Linked DNA regions of Homo sapiens. The protein of the gene in region 6 purifies or fractionates together with the protein of the main gene of each other region. This does not show direct contact. Each region holds a gene or a part of one and is shown on either strand. Other genes may lie near its edges. The genes, in order: ZZZ3, KATNB1, WSB2, NEDD1, MIOS, PFDN4 and RC3H2.

Evidence for each region.
Region 1: the proteins of PFDN4 (region 6) and ZZZ3 purify together in Homo sapiens (affinity purification with mass spectrometry; 2 studies listed by BioGRID and IntAct, with this or other methods). This does not show direct contact.
Region 2: the proteins of PFDN4 (region 6) and KATNB1 purify together in Homo sapiens (affinity purification with mass spectrometry; 2 studies listed by BioGRID and IntAct, with this or other methods). This does not show direct contact.
Region 3: the proteins of PFDN4 (region 6) and WSB2 purify together in Homo sapiens (co-immunoprecipitation; one large-scale study listed by IntAct). This does not show direct contact.
Region 4: the proteins of PFDN4 (region 6) and NEDD1 purify together in Homo sapiens (affinity purification with mass spectrometry; 2 studies listed by BioGRID and IntAct, with this or other methods). This does not show direct contact.
Region 5: the proteins of PFDN4 (region 6) and MIOS purify together in Homo sapiens (affinity purification with mass spectrometry; 2 studies listed by BioGRID and IntAct, with this or other methods). This does not show direct contact.
Region 7: the proteins of PFDN4 (region 6) and RC3H2 purify together in Homo sapiens (affinity purification with mass spectrometry; 3 studies listed by BioGRID and IntAct, with this or other methods). This does not show direct contact.

Annotation. Positions count from the first base shown.
Region 1 is NC_000001.11:77,561,398-77,564,787, reverse strand, and holds the end of ZZZ3 (ZZ-type zinc finger-containing protein 3), read left to right. Parts: 3' UTR 1-2,372; downstream 2,373-3,390.
Region 2 is NC_000016.10:57,734,381-57,738,569, reverse strand, and holds the start of KATNB1 (katanin p80 WD40 repeat-containing subunit B1), read right to left. Parts: upstream 2,801-4,189; 5' UTR 2,715-2,800; intron 2,135-2,714; exon of another isoform or gene 1,926-2,134; intron 1,593-1,925; 5' UTR 1,327-1,592; coding exon 1,287-1,326; intron 1-1,286.
Region 3 is NC_000012.12:118,058,212-118,062,722, forward strand, and holds the start of WSB2 (WD repeat and SOCS box-containing protein 2), read right to left. Parts: upstream 2,969-4,511; 5' UTR 2,838-2,968; coding exon 2,825-2,837; intron 1-2,824. UniProt on the Homo sapiens protein: May be a substrate-recognition component of a SCF-like ECS (Elongin-Cullin-SOCS-box protein) E3 ubiquitin ligase complex which mediates the ubiquitination and subsequent proteasomal degradation of target proteins.
Region 4 is NC_000012.12:96,913,500-96,917,517, forward strand, and holds part of NEDD1 (protein NEDD1), read left to right. Parts: intron 1-4,018. UniProt on the Homo sapiens protein: Required for mitosis progression. Promotes the nucleation of microtubules from the spindle.
Region 5 is NC_000007.14:7,583,534-7,587,551, reverse strand, and holds part of MIOS (GATOR2 complex protein MIOS), read right to left. Parts: intron 1,917-4,018; coding exon 1,747-1,916; intron 1-1,746. UniProt on the Homo sapiens protein: As a component of the GATOR2 complex, functions as an activator of the amino acid-sensing branch of the mTORC1 signaling pathway. The GATOR2 complex indirectly activates mTORC1 through the inhibition of the GATOR1 subcomplex.
Region 6 is NC_000020.11:54,206,629-54,211,095, reverse strand, and holds the start of PFDN4 (prefoldin subunit 4), read right to left. Parts: upstream 3,010-4,467; 5' UTR 2,996-3,009; coding exon 2,972-2,995; coding exon of another isoform or gene 2,726-2,971; intron 2,695-2,725; exon of another isoform or gene 2,346-2,694; coding exon of another isoform or gene 2,181-2,345; intron 1-2,180. UniProt on the Homo sapiens protein: Binds specifically to cytosolic chaperonin (c-CPN) and transfers target proteins to it. Binds to nascent polypeptide chain and promotes folding in an environment in which there are many competing pathways for nonnative proteins.
Region 7 is NC_000009.12:122,877,475-122,881,492, forward strand, and holds part of RC3H2 (roquin-2), read right to left. Parts: intron 3,321-4,018; coding exon 3,120-3,320; intron 2,846-3,119; exon of another isoform or gene 2,739-2,845; intron 2,652-2,738; coding exon 2,519-2,651; intron 2,400-2,518; coding exon 2,281-2,399; intron 110-2,280; coding exon 1-109. UniProt on the Homo sapiens protein: Post-transcriptional repressor of mRNAs containing a conserved stem loop motif, called constitutive decay element (CDE), which is often located in the 3'-UTR, as in HMGXB3, ICOS, IER3, NFKBID, NFKBIZ, PPP1R10, TNF and in many more mRNAs.

The DNA.
Region 1 (3,390 bases), on a different chromosome or scaffold from region 6:
ATATAAAAATCATATATATGGTAATAATTTCCCTCTTTTGTAGTCTGCACAAGATCCATAAAAGATTGTATTTTTATTACTATTTAAACAAGTGATTAAATTTAGTCTGCACAGTGAGCAAGGGTTCACATGCATTCTTTTATACTGCTGGATTTTGTTGTGCATCATTTAAAACATTTTGTATGTTTCTTCTTATCTGTGTATACAGTATGTTCTTGAATGATGTTCATTTGTCAGGAGAACTGTGAGAAATAAACTATGTGGATACTGTCTGTTTATATTATAGAATGCTTGTTGTGACTTCCTTTTGGTTAGATTTTGGATTTTTTTTTTTACCAGTGTTAAAACCAGAAATTGGTATTTTTTAAAATGGTTTGCTTCACATATTTAAGAGTTTTCTTTCTGTCATTTATGAAGAATAAGGAATGTATTATGGAAAAGAGGGTGATCTTAAGCAACCCTGTAAAAAATGGTAAAGATTTTTACTCAGTGTGTGCTGAAACACTAAATTAAACTAGCTTACAAAAAGGAAACACGGACCATGGTTAAAGAAAAAGGCAATTATTAATGCTCAGGTGTGAAAACTAAAGTTGAAAATTTTTTTTCTAGTTGTGTCTCATGAAGATAAGCCCCCATGTATTTAAACAGATGGCTTTTGAAAAATCACCTTGTTTCCTGGAAATTACTATTAACTATAGGAAAAGATAGTATAAATATTCTAAGATTGATTGTTATATTTGACCCAATTTTTAGAATCACCTGTTTTTTCCTATTTTAAATCAAGGGAACATTATTTACTAGTTCTCTTCAGTACATAGCAGGGTACTAAAATCATACCCTGAATTTTTTTTAATTGAGAAAAGTAATAGAATTTTAAATATAGAAATATGAGAATTTTAAAGTAATATATTGATTAAAGATCACTGATGATATAGATATAATATATCATAACAGAAGGAAAGTAAATGGACTTGAGCTTAACTTCTCACCCTGGAATTATTAGTGGGTGAAGAGGGGAATCATTAGCATTCTGGGCGTTTTTATATTAAATGTTTTGTGAATATGCCAGAAGATCTGCCTTCAACTTGTAATTAGGCAAGATAGTAATGCTTGATGGTAACTTCTATGTTTGTGTAGAAATAATACCAGTTAGTTTTGGAAAGCCATTCAGATCCATTCAAAAATTCCATAAAGTATGATGTATGCTTTGGAAGAGGGATATGAGTGATACAATTGTTATATAAATGGAATAGACAAACCATTTGAATGCATTTTTCTAGGGCAAACATTTTTTGAGATTTTTGAGTTAAGAAGATTTTTCGGCTTGAGCAGAAGATGTGTTTGTTTTGCATTTTTCAGCTCCAAGGAAACAGCCCCCATGGCTTTAAAAGGCCCTGAAGTTCAGATAGTAGTAGGTAGTGTTTTGTTATTGTTTTAATTTGAGAGTTGCAGGAATAATGGGCAGAGCTGTCATTTGCCGGTAGGCTACCATCTGCCTACATAGAATTATTGGACTGTAAGCTAAAACAGACTGTAAAAGACCTACTTGCTAAAGCATTGCTTATTCAGTGGTATTCAGTAGATAAGATCTATTTCCTGATATATTGTGCTCAAGTTATTTGCACATCTTAAGAAACTTTTAATATCTAAAACCATTGTTGTAAGATTTAGGTAGAGGAGGTTTCCTTTTGTGTGATGCATAATAATAGAAAACACTGATACAGTGTTTACTATGTGCCAAGCAAGCATATGATAACTAATTCTTAACAACTCTATGAGGCAGGGTCATTTATTATCCTGTTGTCATATGAGGAAATCTCGCCAGAGAGAAGTTAATTAACCTGCCCAAGGTCGTATAGTTAGTAAAGTGGTCATGCTTGGATTTTAACCTAGGCAGATTACTTCAGAGTCAGCGTCTGCCTTACTATCCTGTTTCCTGAGCAGGAATTTCCCCTTGTGTCAGGCAACACTAGGTGTTAGGAGTGGAGGTGTGCAGATGTTGCCTTACATTCTGTTTTCCTGATGTGGTGTGCTTCCTAAGAGTACAAACCTGAGCATATGTCCAGGCTTGCAAAGTCTCAGGCAAAGCTGGGACTAAGGCTTGTGTTTCCTGCCTTGGGTAGGATTTTCTTCTATGCATGTTGGGTGCTTCTCACTTAACCTAATAGTATGCCTTGTCTGTTTTCCCCCCTTCCCCTTTTTGTTTAAATTGATTCACAGAACACAAAAATTTACTAGGTATGAACATTTGAAAAAATGGAATAGAGAAAATGGTACATCACATGTAATAAAGATAAATATTGTTTTGTGAAATGTCTTTTTCAATCATAAATATGTGTTGTGTGCTATATAAAACTATTTCTTATTGTGGATATTGAAGTTTGAAGCCTGTTGTTCATCTATAGATGCACTGGATGGGATTGGAAGTCTTCAGATTTCAGTAGGGTTTTCCACAAGCTTATGAAGACATTGTTCTGTTTAGGCTGTAAACTGTTTTTATTTCTTGATGAAAAATGTTCTTCTATTTATATGATCCCAGAAAAAAGATACAACTTTTTTTTTCTACAGTTAATGTAGCTAGTTAACTAGAGTTTTCAGAGTTATAATACATTTAGCTCCATGAGAACAGAGACGATCCATGTCTGTCTGTATCTCTAGGGCCTGGCATTTAATAGATTCTCAATAAATATGTGTTGGTTGTATGACCAACATTTTGGTGAGTTTACATTTTTTTCCTCCAGGAACTTGAGAGACACCACCTATGATTGAGTGTGTCTGTGAGATCCTTAGAGGCCTTGCATCAGAAGGTCATCTTGACAGTTCTGTGAGAGGACAGGGGAATTGGACTCTATCTTACCCAAAGGCTGTGATTCAACCCTGGGTGGCAGAGGTGGTTTTGGTTCTCTGTGGGACCCTAGATAGGCTGTGTATCTTGATTCTCTTCCATGTTTTTAAGAGTAGTGTAATGGGGCTGGGCATGGTGGCTCACGTCTGTAATCCCAACACTTTGGGAAGCCGAGGCAGGTAGATTGCTTGAGCCCAGGAGTTTGAGACCAGCCTGGGCAACATGGCAAAACCCTGTCTTTACTTAAAATACAAACAAATGGGCATGGTGGCACGTGGCTGTAGTCTCAGCTACTCGGGAGGCTGAGTTTGGGGGAATCACCTGAACTTGGGACGTTGAGGCTGCAGTAAGCCGAGATGGTGCCATGGCATAATAGCCTGGGGGAGAACGCTGTCTCAAAAAAAAAAAAAAAAAAAAGCAAGGTAATGGAAAGGACACTGGAGTGAAAATTCTGGGTCTTAGTCCCAGTTGTGGAAGTGAAGCACTCAGTAAGTGTTGACAAAGAACTACCTTTCATTGCACATTAGGAGCTAGTAAATGATTCG
Region 2 (4,189 bases), on a different chromosome or scaffold from region 6:
AAGTGTGGAGTCTTGGCCAGGCATGGTGGCTCATGCCTGTCATCCCAGCACTTTGGGAGGCTGAGGCACGTGGATCACCTGAGGTCAGGGGTTCGAGACGAGTCTGGCCAACATGGTGAAACCCCGTCTCTACTAAAAATACAAAAATTAGCCGGGTGTGGTGGCGGGTGCCTGTGATCCCAGCTACTCGGGAGGCTGAGGCACGAGAATCGCATGAACCCGGGAAGCAGAGGTTGCAGTGAGCTGAGATTGCACCACTGTACTCCAGCCTGGGTGACAGTGAGACTCTGTCTCAAAAAAAAAAAAAAGTGTGGAGTCTTGTCCCAGCTCCTGAAAACCAGCCCAGGGACAGCTGGCAGCAGACAGTGACCAGGTGGAGCACACAAAAGCTATGCCAACCAGTTACAATAGGTGGGGCAGGGCCCACCAAGGTGCCAATGTGTAGGGGAATTCTCAAAATATGATCTGGGGATGCTTGGGATCCTCAAGATCCTTTCGGGGGGTCTGAGAAGACAAAAGGATTTTCACAATAACACTAAGATGGCATCTGCCTTTTGCACTCTCATTTGCTCTCAAGCATATGGTGGAGTTTCCCAGAACATCACTAGAGGCCTATTTGATTATATACTCTTGTTTGAAAATGTCTCAGTATTAACTTCTAACGTGGTAAATACTGACAGATATATAACTCCAACAAACAAAAGCACTCTGGGGTCCTCAATAATTCTTAAAGTATGAAGTCTTCAGATGAAAGAGTCCAGATCCACTTGTATAGGGCAATGGTGGGAGTGGACAGTGCCCATCAGTTACAATCCGAGCCCTGTCTGCATCCCTCTGCCCGCCCCTCCTCGCTCCCACTCCTTCCCCCATCCCAGGCCCAAGATGCTTTTATCTGACTGGGGAAGTTTGACTTGTGAGATGTCTGAGAATGCTGTGAACATCTTTCAGGATTTCTCACCCCACTGTCAGCCTAACTGGAAATGCTGTGCTAAGTGCTTTAGGATGGGTTCATCCTGTCACTTGAATTTCACAGCAACCATAGAATGCAGGCGTCATCTCATTGTACATATAAGAAAACTGAGCCTCAGAGAGGTTAAGTCACCTGCCCAGTGTCACCCAGCTAAGAAGTGCCACAGTCATGATTTACATAATGGTCTATCTTACTCCCAAGTCTAGGAGTCTCCTCCTGTGCCAAGAACAGGAAACAAAGCTGTGGGTTCAGGCCTCCCAGCAACAAGCCGCTAACAGAATAAATGGGGTGATAAAGAAAAATGAAAACCACTCACGCAACTTCCAGGCTGTCTTGGTGACCACAGGGGTGGCCATCCTTCAGCTGGCTGGCACCTGAAGCCCCACCCACAAAATAAACTGTGCTTTCCTCGTGGGGTGGGGGTGGATCCCCCCCCAGATCCACCAATCAAGTTGGCAGAGAGTTCCCACACATCCAGGCAGACAGAATGCCTCGTCTTCTGGCCCTGGGGTGCCTCGTGGTTCCAAATTACCCACAGCAGCAACAGCAGCAGCCTGTGCACATCTGTCACGATCCTGGATCATGGAATGTTAGGCTCGAGCCATCTCAGCTCAATACAGGGCTGCAATACAAACAAGAGGTGACGTCATGTTAGAAAATGCTTGGTAAGAGCTGTTGCTCCCTGGATCACCAAGACCACTTGATAAAGACTGACACCCACCAAAGCCACCAGAGTCAGAAGCTGCACTGCAAATTAGGTTTGGGAATCTGCAGAGGGGGCACCTCAGGTAGGGTGATTTGGAACGTAAGGAAAAAGAAACTCCTCCCAGAGGCCAGGATAATGAGCTGCAGCTCTGTTCCGGGATGCTGGCTGCCTAAAGTGCAGCAGCCGCAGTGGGGCGGAGAAGACCACGTGTCTGCAATTCACATAGATTTCCTGCGAGTCGTTGTTTTTGTCTGACGTGTGGGATGTGGGAGAGCGGAGTCAGAAGCTAAGCTTAGGGGCCTAGGAAAGGCATCCCAGAGACGGCCACTGAAGTCCTCCTTGGAAAGAATCTCGAAGACGACCCTGATGGTCCAATTCCCCAGCTCCTGGCAAGGGAACCGCTCCTGCTCCCTGCGATTCCCAAGGACAGAGCTAGGAACTAGGCCTCCAGTCTGGGCGTAAGTGGCTATGACTCTTCAACTCTAAAAGGCCTCCTCATGGAGCCTCCCACCTCCTTCCCACAGCCACTTCACCTCTTTCCCATGAGCCCGCTCCCCTCCGTCCCCTTTCTCCTGGGTCCCCGGGTCTGCCTCTCTAGTCCTCCGTTCACACCCCCTTTTCTCCCTGCCCCCTGAGTCTCCCACTTATGCACATCCTGTCTCCCGATATCCCTCACGTGGCCCCTGCCTCGCCAGACTCCCGTTACTGCCCTTTCCCATATGCTCGCGGGGTCTCCCATTCATTCATTCTCCTACTTCTCTTCTCCCTATTCATTACCTGTCCTTCTGCAGACCCCCAGCTCTGCTTCCGGCCTCCCTGGTTTTGCCCCCTCCGGCCTCCACCCCGACCCCTCTCGTCCGGGGGCGGGGGCAGGTCCCTCGGCCACGGCTGATCCTCCCAACCCTCTGCTTGCGGAGTACGGGCTCTAGCCTCCCCACGCTCAGAGCTCTCTGCCCGCAAGCCCAGCCAGCCCCGCCTGGCTCGGCCCAGCCCAGGGCCCACCGTCCCCTCGCCACCTCGTCCCCTTGCCCACTCCACCTGCAGCTGCGGCTCCGGAGGCCGAGGCTCCGCTCCAGGCGCGACCCCCACTTGCCTCCATCCCCTGCCTTGATTGGCCGCTGCTTGACAACCGACCCTCACAACAAAACCTCCGGCTCAGAGCCCCGCCCACCTTGCCTCCCGCACCAATCAGCTGCCGCGGGTGCTCCGCCTCCTGCCAGGACTGACCAATGGAAGCAGGCGCTTCTGCCGCTTTTCCTCAGTACCCGCCCTCTTTTCCTAAATAGGACTAATCAAGAGGAAGGAACGTTCAAGAGCCGCCCCTTGGCCTCTAATAAACCAATGCAAGCTGCCGTTTCCTTAGTCCCGCCTCCGTCTCAAGTTTTCCCTTTCCTCTCCGTTTCCTCCCTCGAACCTAATTTGTGTCTGAAAACTTTTGAGAGCCGCCCTCCAATGGCGGCTGCGCCAATGGCTTGAGCAACCGTCCTGGATTGACCAATCAGCGTCCGCATTATTGGAAAACTCAATTCCCAGATAGCCAATGGGAAAGGAACTTCGGGGGCAGTGTGAAGCCTCAGGCCTTCCATCTTGGAGTGGGGCAAAACCTAAGGAGGCCTTAGTCGGCATTTTGCCGAAGCTCCTCATTCTTCACTTTGCCTGCAGATGGTCCCCCGTGGCAGGAGGACTTTGTCCCTGTTCTTTGACCCGGACGCCGGCTTGAATCCCCCATGGGAGGTCTAGAAGGAAACAGCCTGATTCCGGAGCCGAGGCAGGCGCTGAACCCTGTAGCACTGCACACGCAGCCACCGCCTCGACTAATGGATGCGTGGGCAAGGGGCTGCTCCCTGAATGGCTGCAATCAGGGAATCGGAGAAAGGCCAGCTTTATTTGTGACACGTTGGGCGGGGTGGGCTCTGGGAAGCGCCGTAACCCTTCTCGACTCAGGGCCTCTCGCGTGGCCGCTTAGGAGGGACTTGGCCCCGCAGCCGCCTCTCCCTGTTGCCCAGAGGTTGTCCCAGGCACCCAGAGCCCCTCGAACCTTGCCCTTCGGCCTCCAGCCTCTCACCGCAGGTCAGGGCTCCTTGGGCTCACATAACGCCCAGTACAACCATAAGAGGTAGGAATTCCTGTTCCCATTTACAGATGAGGAAACTGAGGCCCGGGTTAAGATGCTTGCAGAAAACCACACGGTCAGAAAGTAATAGCCCCAGAATTCGAACCCTTGTTCTGAAAGCCAAAGCGTGGGGGAGTCCCCACTCTGCCTTCTGCTTCAGCCTTCTGCTTCAGATTCTCCTGCTTCAGCCTCCTGGGTAGCTGGAACCACAGGCGCCCGCCACCACGACGGGCTAAGGCTAGTTTTTATATTTTTAGTAGAGACGGGGTTTCTCCATTTTGGCCAGGCTGGTCTTGAACTCCTGACCTTAGGTGATCCACCCGCCCCAGCCTCCCGAAGTGCTGGGATTACAGGCGTGAGTCACCGCAAGACACCTTTAAAAGATTAGCAGAATAACATC
Region 3 (4,511 bases), on a different chromosome or scaffold from region 6:
TGTACATTAGATATTCCACCGGCCTCAAAAGCTTTCCTCAGTTGCTCCATCTTATCATTCAGGGATTGGTCCTCATGTCACCTTCTCAGAGACCATCCTGGCCTCACTATCTAAAGCGACCATACACTTTCCTTTTTTATTTTTTATTTTTTTTGAGACAGGGTCTTGCTCTGTTGCCCAGGCTGGAATGCAGTAGCACCATCACGGCTCACTGCAACCTCGACCTCCCCAGGCTCAGATGATCCTCCCATCTCAGCCTCCCCAGTAGCTGGGACTACAGGCACATTCTACCATGCACGCGCCTATAGTTCGGTATTTTTTGCAGAGATGGGGTTTTGCCATGCTGCCTAGACTGGTCTCAAACTCCTGAGCTCAAGTGATCTACCCAAGTTGGCCTCCCAAACTGCTGGGCCACTGCGCCTGGCACCATTCACTTTCCTTTAACCATTTGATTTTCTTTATAACCATCACTTAGATATTTTCTTCTTCTTTTTTTTTTTTTGAGATGGAGTTTCACTCTTGTTGCCCAGGCTGGAGTGCAATGGCGAGATCTTGGTTCACTGCAACCTCCACCTCTCCAGTTCAAGCGGTTCTCCTGCCTCAGCCTCCTGAGTAGCTGGGATTACAGGTATGCACCACCACGCCTGGTTAATTTTGTATTTTTAGTAGAGACGGAGTTTCATTATGTTGGTGAGGCTGGTCTCGAACTCCTGGCCTCAAGTGATCTGCCCGCCTCAGCCTCCCAAAGTGCTGAGATTACAGACGTGAGCCACCCCGGCGCATTTGGTTGATATTTTCTTGATTGCCTGTCATTTTTACGTATTTATTGTCTGTCTCTTTCTGAACCCACCCAAACTTGCCAGTTCACTGCTATTGGGCTACACTGTCTAATAGGGAAATCACATGTGGTTACCAACCACTTGAAATGTGGCAAGTCAGAATTCAGATGGGCTGTAAGTAAAAAATACACAACACGTTTTGAACACTTAGCACAAAAAAAAATCTAAAACATTACATTACAATTTATTTGATTACATGTAGCAGGAATATTTTAGACATGTTGTATTGAAAGAGTTTTTAAATTGTCACCTAGTTCTTTTTTCTTTTTTTTAATGTGGCTACTTGAACATTTTAAATTACATACGTGGCTCACATTAGACTTCTGTTGGTCGGGGCTGGCCTAGAGGGTGCCTGGCACATAGTAGACGTTCAACAAATATTTGCTGAATGAATAAGTGAAGTCTAACCATTGCTCTGAAGATTTCAACTGTTGCCCATTGTATTTCCTTTACAATGGGCTTTATTCCATTTGAAAATAAGTTAAAACTCTGGCCTTTTTTGTACAGTAACTTGGCAGCTCTCAACAACCCTGCCCACACCCTCAAAACGAAGTTGTCAATCTTTAGGAAAACCCCAGAACTGGAAACAGATTTCTGTTAAAAAGGCAGGCTAGCTACAGATTGCTTTCAGATTGAACTGTAAGGAGGCAATGGAAATCAAACGGAAGCTATAAAAAGATTCACATAGGATCTACACAAACAGTAGGGGCCCTTTTAAAAAGAATTCTACGGGTAACACTCACTGAAAAGAAAGCCCTTATCTAGATGGGAAGGAGAGAGAGCTGCCTTTAACTCAATGCCTGACTTCAGCAAACAAAGAAATGTCATTTCCTAAATTAAAAAGTAACACCACCCCAGGGAATACCCAGATTTCAACCTTCCCACCCACAGTAACAAGCCATCAGCAATCAGAACCCTCCAGACCAGGATGAAGCTTGAACTTGGCTGCAAGATTACCATGAAGTTCTGGAACAAATTCTGAGCCCTAGGCCTTGAACCTGCTCTGAAAATTTCTCCTAAGGAAATTACATTTAAACTCGGGTCCTTCAAGACCTGGGACTCCCGGAATCAATTCTAAATCTATCCCAAGTGGGGTTCCGAGGGAAGGTCGTTGGAGGGGAGAGGGCCAAGGCGTGCATGCGTCTTGGGGTTTTTTTCCCCTTGCATAAGAGACACACCTTTCCCACTGAGATTTTATGTTCATCTGGGCTGGCTTGAGGTATATCCAATATCCTCTGACTTCCACGCTGTCTTCTGATGGGGATGGCAGTTAACAAGAATAGAGGCAAGGTCCCCACCCATCAGTGTATCCTAAATTTGCCTGATCATACATGTCACCAGGGATCAGCGTCTCCAGTCCCGCCCCACCTCCACTGACTTAATCTCCAGTGGGAGAGGCTGGGAATAGATTGTTTCAATAGGGAACCCAGACCCCAGACCCCATTTTTACCGGGTCCCAGCCACCCTCCGAGGAAGGTACTAGGATTATCCCATTTTGCAGATCAAAACTGAGACGTGGGTGGCGGTGGTTCAGTGGCTTGTCCACTGTCACGATCACACAGCTTGTGAGGGACAGAGGTGACTCCCATCCAGACATGCAAGTGCGTCCCCTGGCACCTGGGTACCCAGGGGCACCCACCCCCTTGGGGATCTCCGTTTTAGGGCTTGGTGCCCCCCGCCCCGAGTCCCACCCGGGAGCCCCCTCTGTCCCGGTCGGGGGATCTCCTCCCGCAGAAGCCCGATCTTCCCGATCCTGTCGCCGGCGGGAGTCAGGGTGGCGGCCACTGACAACGAAAGTGAAACAAAGCTGGTCGCCGGGCGCGCACCCCCGCCGGCCCCGCGCGGACCTCCCAGGCCGGACGCCCCCGCCGCGTCCAGCCCCCGCCCCACCCCGCCCAGCCCGCCCCGGGGTCGCCTCCCCCCTCCCCGGGGAGAACGGGCCAGGGCCCCGCCGGGCGGGAACGGGCGCGCCCGGCCCCACTCACCTCCGGCCTCCATGGAGGACGCGAGCGGCCCCCGCGGCAGGCGGCGGGCGCCTCAGCCCCCCGGGCCGCGGGCCCTCATGCCGCCCCCGCGCCGCCCGCCCCGGCCAGGCCGCCGCCGCCGCCCGGAGAGGCCATCAGCTGCTTCCCGTCACATGGCGGTGGGCGCGGGCGGAGACGCGCGGGGGCGGGGCGCAGGGGAAACGGAGGGGGGGTGCGGACGGGATAAAAACGGTGGGGGGCAGCTGAGGGAAAAGATGGAAAATCGGGGAGGCGGTACGCTGACGGGATAAAAGCTGAGGGGTTGCTCAGGGGAAACGGGGGCGGGGAAGACGCGCGAACCAGATAAAAATGGGGCAGGGGTGGGGGGAGCTGAGCGGAAACGGGGTGGGGCGCGAACGGGATAAAACCCAGGGGTTGTGCGGGGTCCTGAGGGGAACCAGCGCCGGATAAAAACGGGGAAGGGAGGGAGGTGAACAGAGCTGAGGGAAACCGGGAAAAGGGGAGCGATAGAAACCGGAGTAGGGGAAGCCGGGCTCAGGGGAAAAGGGGGTGTTGGAGAGTGGTAGAGCCGGGCTGAGAGAAAAACCAAGCAGGGGAAGCGGCGATCCGGGGAGAACGGAGAGAGGGAGACCGAGGGCTGTGGGGGTAAGGGGAACCAAAGGGGCTGAAGCGAAATCGAGGGGAGGGGCAGGTGAAAATGGAGCCATGCGAAGGCCGATGAGGGGGGAAACGGGTAAAAATGGGGGCGGGAGAAATAGGTTGGAGGGAATACTGGCCGAGAAGAAACCTGGGGAGAGCTGGGCTTAGGGGAAAATGGGGAGGGGGTGGAAGGAAGGTGTAATAACCGGGTGCTGGGGAGGACGTAAGAATTGGGGGGTGCGGCGAGGGTCAAGGCTAGGGTAAAACAAGGGGGGCTACTCAATGGCTCCGGTAATGGGAGAGGGAAGTGAGGAGAACACGGGGCGGTGGGGAGAGGAGGGCAGGGTGAAAACCGGAGTGGGGGTGGGAACGAGATAAAAAACGGGGCAGGAGCGATTCGGAAGAAGACTGTCCCCTTACCTACCTACGGCGACAGCCTCGCCTGTCCCCGTCCCCCTGAGAAACCTGCTCTCCCTGTCTACCCGCATAGCCTCAAGAAATGGCTCGCTTGGGTCAGACGCCCCCTTTTTAACATTCCAGGGCCAGGGCAGGAGTCATCATGGAGGCTTTTCATGCCTGAAAGACCCCATTTCTTAGTTGTCCGGTCCCCAGTAGTATCAGTGGCTTGGGGATTTCTTACTGAGCTCAGCTCATTGTCCCCAAAATGCCTCCCCTTACCCCCAACTCGAGCGCTTCCCTTTCCTGCTTTGGGCCCAAGCTCTTCCCGCGGTTCTTGGTGTCAGCTTCATTCAAGTCACTCTCCCGCCTCTCATTCCTTTCTCCCCGCCTTTCTTCGCTTCCCTCCAAGTGCCCTCTCCATTTGCCGGTCACTGGTCCCAGAGCTCCGGATCGCAGTGGTTCCATTTTAAATTTCTTTGCTTCCTAACGCAACCTATGTTTTCTACGGTAACTGAGGTTCCCGTGTTCTTTTTCACCATGGTCTCTCCGTTTTAATGTTTCGGGTTTTTTTACCCAGGCCCCTGTTTTATGAGCCCTGGGTACGTCCTTCCTGTGTCCCGTTTGGCCTCCTGGGTTACACTCCTGTTCA
Region 4 (4,018 bases), on a different chromosome or scaffold from region 6:
AGTGGCAGGGATTACAGGTGCCCACCACCACGCCTGGCTAATTTTTGTATTTTTAGTAGAGACGGGGTTTCACCATGTTGGCCAGGCTGGTCTTGAACTCCTGACCTCATGATCCGCCCGCCTCAGCCTCCCAAAGTGCTGGGATTACAGGCATGAGCCACCACACCCAGCCTATCCTTTTGTTTTATAAGTTAATCCCTCTGATTAAGGATAATACTGGCTTCTTCATTTCTAGTCACACACTCTTTGAAAGCTATTTCTTTTTTAAATAAGATAAGATTTAAATAAAAAGATATGGTAGTTGATAGCTTTTTTTTTTAATTTCAAAGTTTTTCTAGCAGATCTTAAATTATTATGAATTGTCATAATTTTACACACTGGGATAGGTAAAGTAGCCCAATTAGAAAGAAAACAGCAGGACAACTGAATAAAAGCTCAACTAATTTAAAGAGGACTCATGATTTTTATCAATCCTCTCCTAAAGGTATCCAGTGGGATTGACCTGAACTTCAGTTCTAACCCACAGATGTTGGAGACTGGGACAGAGGGAACATGTGCTAACAGTAGAAATGGAGTTTGAGGCACTCTGTTTAACCTGACTTAAGCAGAATCAAGGCATAGAATGTCTCTGGTCGATAAAGGCAGACTGAAGTCTTCAAGAGCAGGCAAAACATCTTAACCATCTTTGGATCTTTGTATCCTAAGATGTTCAAAAAACTTGTTAATGTCAACATCAAAACAATTTCAACTTCTACTCTACCACTATATATATGTACTACTGTTATGCATTATGCCTTAGGATCAGTGAATCAGTATTTGGGAGCTTTTTTTTTAAAGTATAAAAATAACAGATGGTATTTACAAGTGTGACATAATTCTAAGAGTTTTGTGAATATTCCAAATTAGTTGCTATGATTCTTAGCCCTCTTTCCCATAGTTAACAAATTGTATCATAATGCTGTTGGATAAAAGTAAGATTAGTTGAGTTCAAATTTTCAATCTATTTTAATTTAGTTATGAAAATATTTGGAAACATTGGTTTTTTAGCTTTTACTAGTAATGTTTACAGAAACATATTAATGTGCTAATAACCTTTTTGTAACTTCCAAGTCCTCTTACTCGTGTATTATTTGAGGCATTAGACCTTTTCTACTTGAGAAAATAAATTATGATCTTACTGATTTTAAAATTTTAGAGTAGAACTTTAAGTTCATATTTATTTTCTTTGATTTTGTATTTCACCTCTTTAAAGTAGAATGTACCTTTGCCTTGCACCTTGAGCAGTTCAGGATTCCTGTAATAACCACACAATTTCCATTAATTATTTAAGTTCATTAGTTGCATTAATAATACATTATCATAAAAAAGACCTATCAACAGGGTTAGCCAGCTCTAAATATAATTTTTATTTTGAGCCCTTAAGAGTAATTGTAGTTGTTGTGATGATTGGAGTCCCAATATATTGATCTTCAATGGACACCATCTTTTTCTATTTTATTTAAAGGCTGTTTTGATAGTTCTTAGCAAACTGTCCTGATTTGCAGTGACAACCAGATTCTAAAGCTTCTTAGTCTCCCTCAACTAAAGTCAATTCCTAGAATGGTATCTGCAGGAGAATTACAGCAACTATACTGAAACATTGATGTTGTGTGCATCTTGCTATTTTTATATGTTAGTTGATACTCTTGGTCAAAATTTTAGAGCTAGAAGGAACCCTGGGGTCCACAGAAGTGAACACAAATCTATTTGATTTCCTTGAAGCATTTTTGACCCCCTTAAAAGCCGTTGGATCCATGTGGAAGAAAGACAGTAAGAGAGTGGCTCTTTAGTACAAGATTAGCATGTTTATAGTATTTGAACGTGCAATGGGGGAAGGGCTAGAGGAAGGGGATCATATGCACCCTTTAAAGAATCTCTTTTGAGCAGAGGATATTTCTGAGAAGCATGGATTCTCAAAGTAAGAACAGTAGATCTAGTCTTCACCTTTCGTTTCTCAAATGCAGAAGCATAGGCTCAGAAAGGTGAGATGATTTGCCTAAACCTACATAGCTTGCCTTTTAACTTTTCTTGAAGTCATGAAATGTCTCCTTTGAATTTGAAGAATCCAAGGATGCACTGTGGAAGTTCCAACTAATGTGACTTCGTAGTGCATCTAAAGGTTACTTAGGAAAAAAATGCAACACTGTTCTGTATAGCATAGTTACTGATGGCACCACCAAATTGGTGACACTCAAAGATACTCACTGAGAAGAACTTGACAACATCTGTATTTTAGCCATTCTATAAAGATGGAGCATGGATATGGGCCTTGTGCTAGTGAAACTGACATTCTGGCGGGGGACAGGCAGTAAACTAGTAAACAAAAAATACCCAGATATTGGTAAGTTATCATGCAGATAACTAAAATAAGATATTGTGATAGCAAGTTACATTAGGTAGCCAATGGAGGTCCCTTGAAGTGTGGTGGCACTTAAGTTGATATCTGTTGACCAGAAAGTCTTCCAAACAGGGTTCAGTGAATTTAGCTTTCTAGGCAAGGAGAATAGCTGTGTAGAAGCCTTGAGGCAAATATAGGGTTGTATATTTAAGGAATGGAAGGTCAGTATGGCTGGAGAATTAGTGGATGAGGAAGAAAATGGTAACAGATGAGGTAGGGCCCAAATAATAGGACTTTGAAAGCCAGGTAAATGTTTGGAGTTTATTCTTGGTGTGATTGGAAGCCGTTGAAGATTTATTATTATTATTATTATTATTATTATTATTTTTAAATTATACTTTAAGTTTTAGGGTACATGTGCACATTGTGCAGGTTAGTTACATACGTATACATGTGCCATGCTGGTGCGCTGCACCCACTAACTCGTCATCTAGCATTAGGTATATCTCCCAATGCTATCCCTCCCCCCTCCCCCCTCCCCACCACAGTCCCCAGAGTGTGATATTCCCCTTCCTGTGTCCATGTGATCTCATTGTTCAATTCCCACCTATGAGTGAGAATATGCGGTGTTTGGTTTTTTGTTCTTGCGATAGTTTACTGAGAATGATGGTTTCCAATTTCATCCATGTCCCTACAAAGGACATGAACTCATCATTTTTTATGGCTGCATAGTATTCCATGGTGTATATGTGCCACATTTTCTTAATCCAGTCTATCATTGTTGGACATTTGGGTTGGTTCCAAGTCTTTGCTATTGTGAGTAATGCCGCAATAAACATACGTGTGCATGTGTCTTTATAGCAGCATGATTTATAGTCATTTGGGTATGGAAGGAGACATGATCTGATTTACATTTTTAAAGTCCACCCTACTTATGAAGGATGGAATATAGGAGAGCAGGAGTGGAAACAGGGAAACCAGTTAGGAAGCTGCTGTCGTAGTTTGGTAAGGTTTGGGTTAGTGTTAGTAGTAGCTATAGATAAAGGGGAGCCCATGTGGGATTCATTCTTGGGTTGGAGTTTAGAGAGCTTACTGATAGATTGGAGGGGAGGGAGAACAAGAAATCAAGGGTTATTCTGGGTTTTTATCTTGAGAAACTGGATGGTGTCTTTACAGAGATGGGGAACAGTTGAAGTCAGGCTTTGATGACCTGATGTCTGAGACTTGGTCTCCTTAACGGAGATTTGCTGGAAGACTTAGGGCAAGTATCTTGACTTCTTTAAAAAAAAACTTATCCCATCGGTAAAATGAGGGCTGTACACTGGAAATTCTTTTAAAGTCTCTTCTATTTTTAGCATTTTTGAGCTGGGGATTGATTTTAATGTAGGATATTCTGTGGAAATACAAGAGCAGGCTTTATCAAGAGGAGATAGGATGGGCAAACAAGCCCTGATGGGAGACCAGGACTGCCAGTGTTTTCTAAGCTTCCTGTGTCGTCACCGGTCCACAGAAGTGAATGCAAATCTATTTGATTTCCTTGAAGCATTTTTGACCCCCTTAAAAGCTGTTGGATCCATGTGGAAGAAAGACGATGAGAGAGTGGCTCTTTAGTACAAGATTAGCATGTTTATAGTATTTAAT
Region 5 (4,018 bases), on a different chromosome or scaffold from region 6:
GGCTATGGTAAATGGGGCAGAGCAAGGAGTCAGGCCTGTATTTTCCGACTTCCCAATTCAGTACTTTTCACATTACTATTAACATTTTTTAAATAGCAACATTAATTATAATTATTTATACATAAAGTATAACTAAATACATAAATGAAACAGCTTGGAAATATGAACTTCGTACTCAAGATGACTGTTATCTAATAACTCAAATTTATGTATAGCAAAACAAGGATACTGGGGCAGGGCATGGCGGCTCACATCTGTAATCCCAGCACTTTGGGAGGCCAAGTCAGGTGGATCATTCAAGATCAGGAGTTCGAGACCAGAATTGATATTTCTGGCCAACATGAGGAAACCCCGTCTCTACTAAAAATACAAAAATTAGCCGGCATGGTGGTGCATGCCTGCAGTCTCAGCTACTTGGGAGGCTGAGGCACAAGAATCACTTAAACCCAGGAGGTGGAGGTTGCAGTGAGCTGCCATTGCACCACTGCACTCCAGTATGGGTACAGAGCAAGACACTGTCTCAAAAACAACAACAACAACAACAAAAAAAAAAAAAAAAAAAAGGGAAAGAAAAGTACTTATTATGGGTCACTTAACTTAAAATGCAGAAATTTAATATTTAAACAATATACATCTTTTATCAATTCAGAAGTTAACAATCCACTTGTTTATCTAGTCTCTATCATTCTCTAACACTTCGTGAAAGCATTATTTTATCTCTCCAAGATACATTTAAAGTCTTCTGTTTAACAAAAAAGATTAATTACAGTTAAAAAATAAAGTCCTAACATTATACGTATTAATTTGAATTGGTCAGAAAAAGTTCAATAGTAATTTATTAAAAGTAATAAAGTACATAAAGTGCAAAATACACATTTATTAAACATTTCATTAAGCTGCTCCAATAAAATACATATTTTTACAAATTCTTAGGGACTAATCCTTAAATCACTTATTCAAGAAATGTATAATTGATAAGAAATGGTACAGTAGCAAACACAGAAATGAATTTCAGTGTAGAAAGTTCTTCCCACTGCTAGAAAGAAGCCAAGTAGTGCAAAGAAAGTTGTAGTACTATTGTTTAGCTTAAAACCCAATAGCTAAAACTGGTAAGCAAATCTCACTTCATTCTTTCTTTCCCCGTTTTGTGATAAAGAACCTATTTGATTGTGTTATGATCACAGGTGGTTAAAACAGAAGAGAAAAAGAATAACACAAAGACCAAATAAAAAGCTGAAATAGTCCACTGTAAGTACTGTTATCATTCCTAACAGGAACCACAAAGACTAACTGGGACAAGATGTATGGCCACCTCCACCATAACTGATCAATAATCGTGAGTTGTTTTATTTAACTACACACACACACACACACACACACACACACACACACACACGTGCATGTGTGCACAGTGTAAACAGCGAATATATTTTTATGTTTACACAGCTGTAGATTTCTACAGCTCAGTTCTTAAGCTAAAGGATAAAATCTTTATTCCTTCTATATCTGTAAATTATATTAAAACCATAAAAATCAAATCCAGTTTGGTATCAGTTAACTAACTCTAGGACGGGAATCACACTCAAGAAGAGCTGCTCAAAAAAAAAGCCCAAGATGCCTTATTTTAAATAACATATGCATAAAAATATAATATTTTATGCAACAGACATTTGAAAATTTTAATAAAGTTAGATAAAAACTCCTATCTTAATTCAAAGGAAGATCTTAAAAAACAAGTTAGCTTACCAAAACTCCATCGTAAGATCCTGTTTCACTTGTCAGAAATGCAAACATGACACACAAATACGGGTTATTTAGCTGTAATCGCAGTGTGCTACACATTTCTCTCCAAAGGGAGTTCTTCTCATCCGTATAACCCGATAAAGCCATTGCTACCACATTGAGATTCAGATCTCCTGCATATTAAAAACAGCCAGCTAATCAAAGTGATCAAAAGCTTAATATCTCTTCTACATTTCTTAAACCATAAATAGAAATCAGAGGGTGACTTTTACCCTCAGAAAAATGAGCTCAGAGAATAAGGGTTTTGGGCTGCTCTGCCTATGGAGTAGCCATTCTTTTATTCCTTTACTTTCTTAATAAAGTTGCACTTTACTCTTGAAAAAAAAAAAAAAGGGGGGGGTTTGGGTTTTGATTCAGACTGGAAAATTTGGCAAAGACAATAAGCAAAACATTTCTACCCTTATAAAACTCATGCCCATGTGTGCAAACTCTGTGCAGGGAAGCAGATCTTTTACTTTTCAAGTTCTCAATCCAGGCAGGGTCTTATATAAGTTATTCCTGTGTATGTTCCCATATATGTATGTTATTGCTTACTAAATGAAGAAAAGTGAAGTCATCCTACCAGAATCACTGTCAACTTTAACAAGTTTATTAATGTAAAGGTATTTCAAAAACACTTATAGTAAATATTGCATCTCAAGACTGCAATATTCAAAATCATTTTATTTTCCTATTCCTAAATATATAATGCAGACACTTATGTATATAAGTGTCAATGCAAAGTGCAGAAAGTAATATTTCAATACTTTAATTACAGTATTACACTTACAATTTTTCCAGGACAAAATGAACTACAAGAATTACCACAGAACTGCATTTAGACCCATTTGCAAGAAAGCATTTGTTACCAATAGTCTTTTAAACATTTGTTCTTAGCAGTTTAGATGCATGCTGATAAGCTGCTAACTTTGCCTTCAGCAGTATGGCTGCCTAGTCTTCTAACCGAAGTTCAGCTTCAAAAGAAAAAACTGAATTTTCCTTTAACTTTGACTTTTAAGTATTTTCTACACTTATTATATAAGTTTTCTTAATCTATTTCTTGATTCTAATCTTTTTCTTTCTTTTCCAAATAAAGCAGTGTTTCCCACTTTATGTTCTTAACAGCTTTATATTCCTCATTTCTATAAACACTTTCCCAAGTTACTTTGTGCTTGCTTCCTTTGCCTAATACATTAGATTTAAGGTCTTTTAAAATAAAAATAAAAATAGCAAAGAAGTATCTTTGGATTTTGTATAGAACAATTTACTTCTAAATGGAAAAGAATGTTTGACTCAGAGAAGTCTTCTCTTCAGTCCTTAAAATCACTGGAAAGATACATTTTCCCTATTGTTAGTATGGGTGTTTAAATCGACCACCAAATTTCCCAGGTACACAAGATAGGAAAGTATCACCCTTTCAAGTTATAGCAAAATTATAATTAGAAATGGCTTTAAATATCAATTCTTTTTTCCATCATCACCTATTTTCTATTGCACTCTTAAATGAGGGAGACTTTTGTTAGAGCAAAGGTGAAGGAAAAGATGCCAATCTGAGCAAAACATTGACTTTTTTAACTTTTAGACTACAAAAAAAATTACAGTGAATTTCATGTTTTTCTCTATGCTACAGCTAAACTATAATGGTTTCAAAATGGACCAGCAAGTAAGGATTCAGTATTCTGAATATTCAAAAATTATTTTTTAGGTGTACTAAAGACCAATAGCTATATATATTTTAGTTATTTCCAAGCGAAATATTCCTGATAAGAAAAAAACCCCTGAGGTTTTGTATTAGGATTTGTTTTTCCGAGGATCCTCTGGCAAAATGCCAGAGTAAAAAAACCTTATCTCTTTCTTTTTAAAAAATACTAAATGAAAACTGTATTTTAATCACCAGATTCAAGAAGCAATTTGAAGATCAAAGTATGCTTTTTATAACAATTTGTATTAGCCTAAATAAAAGTGTCATTCAGAGTTTCTTAAAGGTCAAACAATAACCATCCCAAAGAAAGTATAAACTAAAACACTCAAATATGGATCGTAAAAATACTTGTAGGCTAAAGTAGCCCTAATCTTTAAGAAAATATATTTTAAAAAATGTTATGTGAACTATCTTTAAGAGAAAACATTGAAAATGGACACACTTGAGCACTCCTTATAATATTATACTAACATTTAAGACACATCTTTGTTTTTACAGCCCTAAACCAAGGCATAAGAGATGAGCTAAGTATTT
Region 6 (4,467 bases):
TTTTTTTGTTTTTGAGACGAGTCTTGCTCTATCGCCAGGCTGGAGTGCAGTGGTGTGATCTTGGCTCACTGCGACCTCTGCCTCCCAGGTTCAAGCGATTCTCGTGCCTCAGCCTCCCGAGTAGCTGGGATTATAGGCAAACGCCATCATGCCCAGCTAATTTTTGTATTCAACTTTCATCCATGCAGTAGTTTATTTAACAATTACTGTTTCCTATACGCCATGCACTGTGACAAGAGAGCCACTATCCCACTTTCATGAATACAAATGGCAAGCATACATCCTGGTGGAGGAAGAGAGCAAAAAACAAGATGAACAAGATAATGTTCAATGGTGACAAACGTGATGATGAAAATAAAACAGCTTAGGAGTAGAAAGTTTTGGGGGCCTGGGGAGTGAAGGAGGCTTCTTTAGATAAAGGTCAAAGGTAGCCTCTCTGAGGAAAGGACATTTGTATATAGGATAATGAACAGAAATCAAAGTGCAGATCTCCTTATGGTCAAGAACTGGATCTTAGAAGGCAGAACTCTAGAGAGGAGAGGACTGAATCATCTCATCTAAACACTCTCCCCAGCAAAGTCATGACCAGTTGAGAGATACGATGTGTTACAAACGTAAAGTACTCCAGATTGTACGATTTGCTTTTAATTAAACTCAAAGGGCTATCTCTCTCTGTTTCACTCTCACTCACTGGCATACACATATGTTTTCTCCTAGTGAGGGCAAAGGGGAAAAGTGTACATGCAAGCTAATCTATCGGGAATTGTTCCTAACACTGGAAACATCTACAGGAGGACACTGCATCTATCATGTGACTCTTAAAGCCTCCAAAGTTAAAGAAGCTCCTTTATATTTTGGCCACCACCTACCCCTCTATAAGTTCTTTTCCCATCATGGCTCAAACTCTCTTCCCCTGATTATCTGCCATCGGGCCTTCCTTGTATTAAATGCACTCAGAGTCTCTGCAGATACTCCTCTCTAGAATGCTTCGCTCCCTATCCAACTCTCCCTTCCTTTCCTTACATAATCTCACAGATCTCAACTTAAATGGCACTTTCCCAGGAAAGTCTTCTCTGATCTCAAAACAGACCTCATTTTGGCCCTCATTTCATAAGCACTTTTCCTTCACAGTTCTCATCAGAGAAACTAGTTTTCTGTCTGACTATCTGAGTAATGCCTGCTCTGCCCTGGAACATACGTTCTTTGGGGCTATGAGATTAAGGGGAGAAGAGCTTTCTCACTGGTCACCACAGTTGTCTCCACTTAAAACTGAGACTACGCCATATTACGTGCCCCCGAAAATTTACTGAATCAATGAAAGGAAAAAAAAAGTTGGTAATTAGAAATTTTGCAATCAAAATCCAAGGTTCAAATCATTCTTCTGCCATTTCCTCTTCTACCATTTACTTCACCTCTCTGCACTTCAGTTTCCATACCTATAAAACGGAGTGAACCACAACTAGTATCTTCCAAGGAATTAAAGGCCATACCTAACACCAGAGGGCCCAATTTAACAAACTAGAGGTGAAGTGAATCTCACAAAGTTTCATACTTTTTTGAATCACCATGGCCCTAGACCCTACTCTGGGACACAGTAAGAATTTTTGGATGGCAGAATAGTAGGGTGAGCAACACATCCTGAGTTGGCTGGGGCTTTCCCATTTTTGGCAGTCCCTCAATTTCATATAAAAGGGGGCAATGGGTCACCCTACACCAGGCACAGATGGCATAGACTATGTGGTACTGGATAGGGGCAAAGCAAAGAAGTTCTAATGTGGTCTTAAAAGTGGAATGAACGCAAATCCCTCCAGCCAAGAGATTCTCATCAAAGACCCCCTATAGCAGTTTAAAACACAGACTCCGGAGTCAGAATGCCTGTGTTTAAATGCTAGCTTTGCCTCCGCGCCTGTTTTCTCATTGTTAAATAAGGATAAAAACAGTATCTCCCTCAAAGAACATAAAATAAACAATACACGCAAAACAACTTACAGCTGTACCTAGCACACTGTAAAGCTCCCCAAATTATCAGCCGTTATCTCCTTCCCCCTCTCCAATTTTCTTTTTCTTCTATCTGACTATCTTTACACATCTGGGAAGGCTCACGGGATTAAAAACCCCACATGGAAGTTTAGCCGGCTTAGTGGTTACACAGGCGTGCTTTGAGAAAAACAAAAACAAACCTGAGTTTGAACTCCAGCTCTGCTTCTTACTAGCTGAGTCACTTTAGGGCCTCTAACTGCTCTGTGTCTAAGTTTCTCTACCTGCAAAGTGGAGAGGAACCCATTGCACTTGCTGAGTTGCGGGGAGGATAACAGATAAACGGCCGGCTGCTGGGCCCGGCACATCTTCCATTCTCAATAAATACTGGTTTTAGCCTGAAGGACTCAGGGGCATCAAGCGTGGAAATGGGCAGCTCCAGGTTGGACACAGGGTCTCTGGGGCCTGCTAATCTGGGGATGCAGGAACCTGCTGTCCCCGTTATGAGCTGCGTAACCTCGGGCAGGTGACTCCCCATCTCTGGGCCTCAGTTTCCTCACCCGTAACCACGCTCCCAGCAGCAGCTACCCATAACCAGTGAGGCTAATGCGATCATGCCGGTGCAACGCCCGAGTCAAGGCCAACCACACTCAACGGGACCTTCGGCTTCCCACACCTCAGGGGCGAGGCCGGGGCTGCAGGTTCCTCAGACTCCCCGGGGGCACCCTCGGCATCGCGGGAGGCGGACCTGCGTCCTTCGAGGCTCCCGGCCCCAGCCCCGGCGCCCCGCCTCGGCTGGCCAGGTGCCTAGGAAAACGCTCAGGGCGCCAGGCGCGAGCAGGCCTTGCCGCGGGACCGCTCTCAGGGCCTCGGCCTCGGCCTCGGGTCCCACGCCGGGCTTCGGAGCTGCGCACCCCCAGCATCCCGCGCCCGGGCCCCAGCGGCCGAGATCCGGCGCCGCCCGAGCATCCAGAGCCCCGAGCTCCCCACTCACCGCCTTCTTCATGGTGGCCGCCATCTTGGGACTGGACTACCGCAGGCGGCGGGGAGGGCCGCAATGGCGCGCTTCGCCCCCGAGCGTTCTCTCGCTCCCGGTCGGCCTAGAACTCCCCGCAAAAATACAACACTGTCTCCACATTCCGTCCTCTTGGACTTTTGGCCAGTGAGTCCAAACGGCTGGGACGTAGGGAGGAAATGTGACCTGGAAGGACTTGGTACATGCCAATTAAAGGGACAGGCAACCCCCGTGGACCGACATAAACACGGGGGTGTGGCGAACGGCTCCGGCCGCGGGCAGCAGGGGGCGCGCCCAAGGCTCAGCGCGGCGGGGCCCAGCTGGGGCAGGATCAAAGGGCTCGGGGAATTTTTCTCCATCCGTCCCACAGACTTGCATTGAGAAAGCTAACCTACCTGTAAAACAGCTAGGAACGAATGGCCTTGGCAAATAGGGTGTGAGATTTATGTGCCATGATAATTCAGGTGGTGTAAAGGAGGTACTCCTATCTTTTAATGTAATTTTTTTTTAATTTAAATTCGGGGGGTATGTGTGCCGGTTTATTACATGGATATACTGCATGGTGCTAAGGTTTGGGTTTCTAATGATCCCGTTGCCCAAGTAGTGAACATAGTACCCCACAGGTAATTTTTCAACCCCTTTCCCCTGCCTCCTTCCCCGTTTTTGGAATCCGTAGCATTTATTGTTCCCACCTTTATGTCCACGAGTACCCAGTGTTTAGCTGTCACTCATAAGTGGGAACATGAGTGGTTGGTTTTCTGTTTCTGTGTTAATTCACTTAGGATAATGATGTCCAGCTGCATCCATGTTGCTGCAAAGGACATGATTTTGTTCTTTTTTATGGCTGCATAGTATTCCATGGTGTATATGGACCACATTTTCTTTATCCTATCCACCACTGATGGGCATCTGGGTTGATTCCATGCCTTTGCTGTTGTGACTAGGCAATCCTATTAATTAATTTACAGCAATATTACTGAACAATTACTGTATATTCTGACACTTGTGTCTCCCAATTAGTAATTTTTTTTTTTTTTTTTGCCTTAGGACCTCTTTATACTCCTGGAAATTACTGAGGACTCCAAAGAACTTTTGTTTATGTGGGTTATTTATCGATATTTGCTGTATTAGAAATTAAAGCAGAATTTTTAAAATGTATTTATTAATTCATTTAAAATAATATAAAACTCCATTCCATGGTAATAAAAATCACACTTTAAAAATAACTATATTTTCTAAGACAAAAATAAATTGAGAAGATTGTCATCATTTTACATTTTCACTGATCTCTTTAATATCAGGCTTAATGGAAGGTTACATTCTCATGTCTACTTCTGCATTCAGTCTCTCCAAATACACTGTTTAGTTGCCTAGTTGTAGGTATGAAAAACCCCAGCCTCATACAAATCATGTAGTTGGGAAAGGGAGGCCCTCATGGATCCCTGAAAAGGTCTCAGGGACCCCCGAGGTTCATG
Region 7 (4,018 bases), on a different chromosome or scaffold from region 6:
CAAGCTCTTCCTGAGAATGGGCAAATGTACAATTTGTTCCTCGTGGACAACCCCCTTGCTGTCGCAAATCTCGGCACATGCTAGTCTTGTATTTGCTGTTTGGCTGAGGCTACAAAAATGGGAACACATTCAATGAGTGGCAAGGTGAAGATTCCATTTGTTATTCACTCTAGGAAGTTCAGAACTTTATAATTACACCTTTAATTCTTTTTCACATTAGACAAGTAATTCTTGTGCTGAAACAACTAATATTCCATTGTTTCCTGTTGTGAGTTATGTGACATAACCCTGAATTGGCACTTCAGATATTCCTTCTGAAGATTATTCGAAACTGGTTCAAATGTTATGTCCATTTATTCATTAGTTAACAGAATGCCCAGAAAAAGAAAATATTTTTTCATCAATTTATTGCTGTCTTAAAATTCTGCTACCAAAATCAAACAATTTTAAAAAGCATTAAAAAAAAACCAAAAGCTTTGTCTACTTAAACTTTCTCAGAAAAGGTAGAATACAATTCCACCTAGAAGTGAAAAATTACCAATTCACTTGTCAGCTTGAGGGTGCAACTCTCAGGCTTAAACTATTTGAGTTCATACAATGAGGCAGAATATTAAAATTTCACTATTACTTCTACAATTTGCATCAAAATCTAAGACATTCTTATTCTTATGAGCCTAGGATGAAAACATTTGTTTTTAATATTTTAAGTTATAATATCTTCTAAGAATAAGGAGAGAAGAGTACAAAGTGTAGGTTTGATCCCAGCTCTTACTGACAGCACAACCTTTTTTATTTTTTATTTTTATCTTTGAGACGGAGTCTTGCTCTGTTGCCCAGGCTGGAGTGCAGTGGCGCCATCTCAGCTCACTGCAAGCTCCACTTCCCGGGTTCAGGCCATTCTCCCTGCCTCAGAGAGCTCCCAAGTAGCTGGGACTACAGGCGCCTGCCACCACGCCCGGCTAATTTTTTGTATTTTTAGTAGAGATGGGGCTTCACCATGTTAGCCAGGATGGTCTCGATCTCCTGACCTTGTGATCCGCCCGCCTCAGCCTCCCAAAGTGCTGGGATTATAGACATGAGCCACCGCGCCCAGCCCCCTGACAGCACAATCTTATGTTATTTAACCTCTTTGAATTTCAGCTTGGAAACAGCAACTACATTGCAGGTGGCTGTGAGGATAAGAAATAATACATGTAAAACATTGAATGTAGTGAATGGCTCATAATAATTTATTAAATAGAAGTTATAAGTATAAAGGATTATATCTTAACTTCTTTTTATTTTATATTTTTGGAGACAAGAGTCACTCTGTCGCCCAGGCTGGAGTGCAGTGGCGCGATCTCGGCTCACTGTAGCCTCCATCTCCCGGGTTCAAGCGATTCTCCTGACTCAGCCGTCTCAGTAGTTGGGATTACAGGCATCCACCACAATGCCTGGCTCATTTTTGTATTTTTTTTTTTTTAGTAGAGATGGGGTTTCACCATGTTGGCCAAGCTGGTCTCGAACTTCTGGCCTCAAGTGATCCACTCACCTCAACCTCCCAAAGTGCTGGGATTACAGGCGTGAGCCACTGTGCCTGGCCAGGTTTATATCTTAACTTCTAAAGTACACTGAAAAGTATCTTGAAAATTCAAATTTCGGCCAGGCACGATGGCTCACGCCTGTAATCCCAGCACTTTGGGAGGCCGAGGTGGGCAGATCACCTGAGGTCAGGAGTTTGAGACCAGCCTGGCCAACATGGTAAAACCCTCTCTACAAAAAATACAAAAATTAGCAGGGCGTGGTGGCACTTGCCTGTAATCCCAGTTACTTGGGAGGCTGAGGCAGGAGAATCACCTGAACTCAGGAGGCAGAGGTTGCAGTGAGCTGAGATAGCGTCACTGCACTCCAGCCTGGGTGACAGAGTGAGACTTTGTCTAAAAAAAAAAGAAAGAAAATTCAAATTCCATAAATTTACATATAGAAATTCAATACAGAAAAAAAATGACAATTTCCCACAGTAGAAAAGAATGAGACAAAACGTTTGGAATCAATTATCTACATTTGGTCAAAAATATTCTGCAATAAAGTATACTCACACCCAAGATACCCTCTAAACTCTTGGTGTGCTATGAAATGTTTACCAAGTACACTAAAAACTGGGTTCCTCCCAAAAGAATAGAGATGATAGAAACTTATGAGTCACATACGGAGTCCAATTAACAAAACAGCTGGTTAAGATGTTCAGGATGAAACTGAGTTAGAGACAACAGCAGTCAGAAATGTAATAAATGTACTTACCTGAGGGGTCTCATGGCCTTTTCTACTATAATTTTGTATGAAGTCCACAAGGCCATGAACTACTGTTTTAACAGCTACCATTGCATTTTCCAGCTGCTCCCAAGTTGGTGAAACAGCGTCTAAAATAAGCCACCAAGGGCATGGGGGTTGGGGGGGAAGAATGTTAGCAGTAATTCTCTTGTGTTATTCACCTCAAAAGTAGAAAAAAATATAAGCAACTGAGCATATTCCCACATACCTGGATTAGGGTCTATGTTTGCAAGAAGCTCTAAATGAGGCCTCAGTCTATTTAAGTTAGCTGGGTCACCTGTTCGTTGCAAAACAATTGTCAATTCCTGGACACTCTTTGCAAATGACTCTGGAGACTGTAGCTAACAAACAGAAATGAGAATGCTTTTTACTTTGGTTCTTATGACACATTTATACTCAAATACTTTCAATTTATCAACATATTTAATACGTTTTCAAGTGTCTTCAGATTCCACAGTAGGAGTATCAGTGATGAATTAAATTTTCACCTCAGAATCTGCCCTATGAAATTCATCATTAGACACTTAGAAAACTTATAAGCTGTATTAACTCTCTGAGGTCAGAATATAGATAAATTTGAGACTTTGTAAGCCTCACTGCTTTTATGCTAGTATCATGTATTTGTTTCCCTGTTGCATCCCTTTATTTTGCAAGTAGAAAAATAAAAAGAAAATAAGGATAATTTATAAGAGTCTGACATTTAAAAACATAGGAATCTCCAACTGTTTGTGTATAGACTCTTTAGAATATTCTAATACTCTTCAATGTAACAGCAATGATAGAACATCAGCATCTCTAATTTCACAAACCTTATCAATGATAGACTGCATGTGTGATTTATGAGCCAAATCACCATACAAAAGAGAGGACCACTGTTCAGGTGAAATACGGAGTCCTGCTTCCATGGCAATATGAACAATTTGGGCATCATGTTCTCTGCGTAATGCTTCATAACTCCGAAATTCCTCCTTCAGCTGCATTAGGGAAGAGTCTTCATCTCTTTTGGTAACCTAAAAAATAGAAAAGAGAAAAATCAGAATTGGTCTGTGCTTTCTCCCTTCAACTGATTCGTTTATTCCTTTTTCAGGGAGGGTGGGGGATACTTACATATCAGACACCACAGAAATAAGGTACAAAGATAAGATAATGTCCTGACCACAAATTCTTTCTGGAACAAAACAGAACTTACATAACTAAATACATAATCCTTGCCTTCAATGATTTCAGCCACTAGTAAGAAAGAGAAACTTGTAAGTAGAAAATTATAGTAAAAGTTATAAGGCTTGATGGCAACAAAGAGGAAAGGGAATTAAATTAGGGAGAAGAAAGGGATTTCAGAAAAGGCTTCTCCCAGCTGAAAGCTACATGAATTGATTTGTGCACAATAAACAGGAGTTTCCTGAGCAAAGAAAGGTGAGGAGGCCAGGGATGGTGGCTCATGCCTGTAATCCCAGCACTTTGAGAGGCCGAGGTGGGCAGATCACTTGAAGTCAGGAGTTTGAGACCAGCCTGGCCAACATGACGAAACCCCATCTCAAGAAAAAATACAAAAACTAGTCAGGCATGGTGGTGGCAGGCGCCTGTACTCCCACCTACTCGGGAGGCAGAGGTTGCAGTGAGCTGAGATAGCACCACAGCACTCCAGCCTGAGGGACAGAGTGAGACTCCGTCTCAAAAAAAAAAAAAAAAAAAGGAAAAAAGAGAAGGG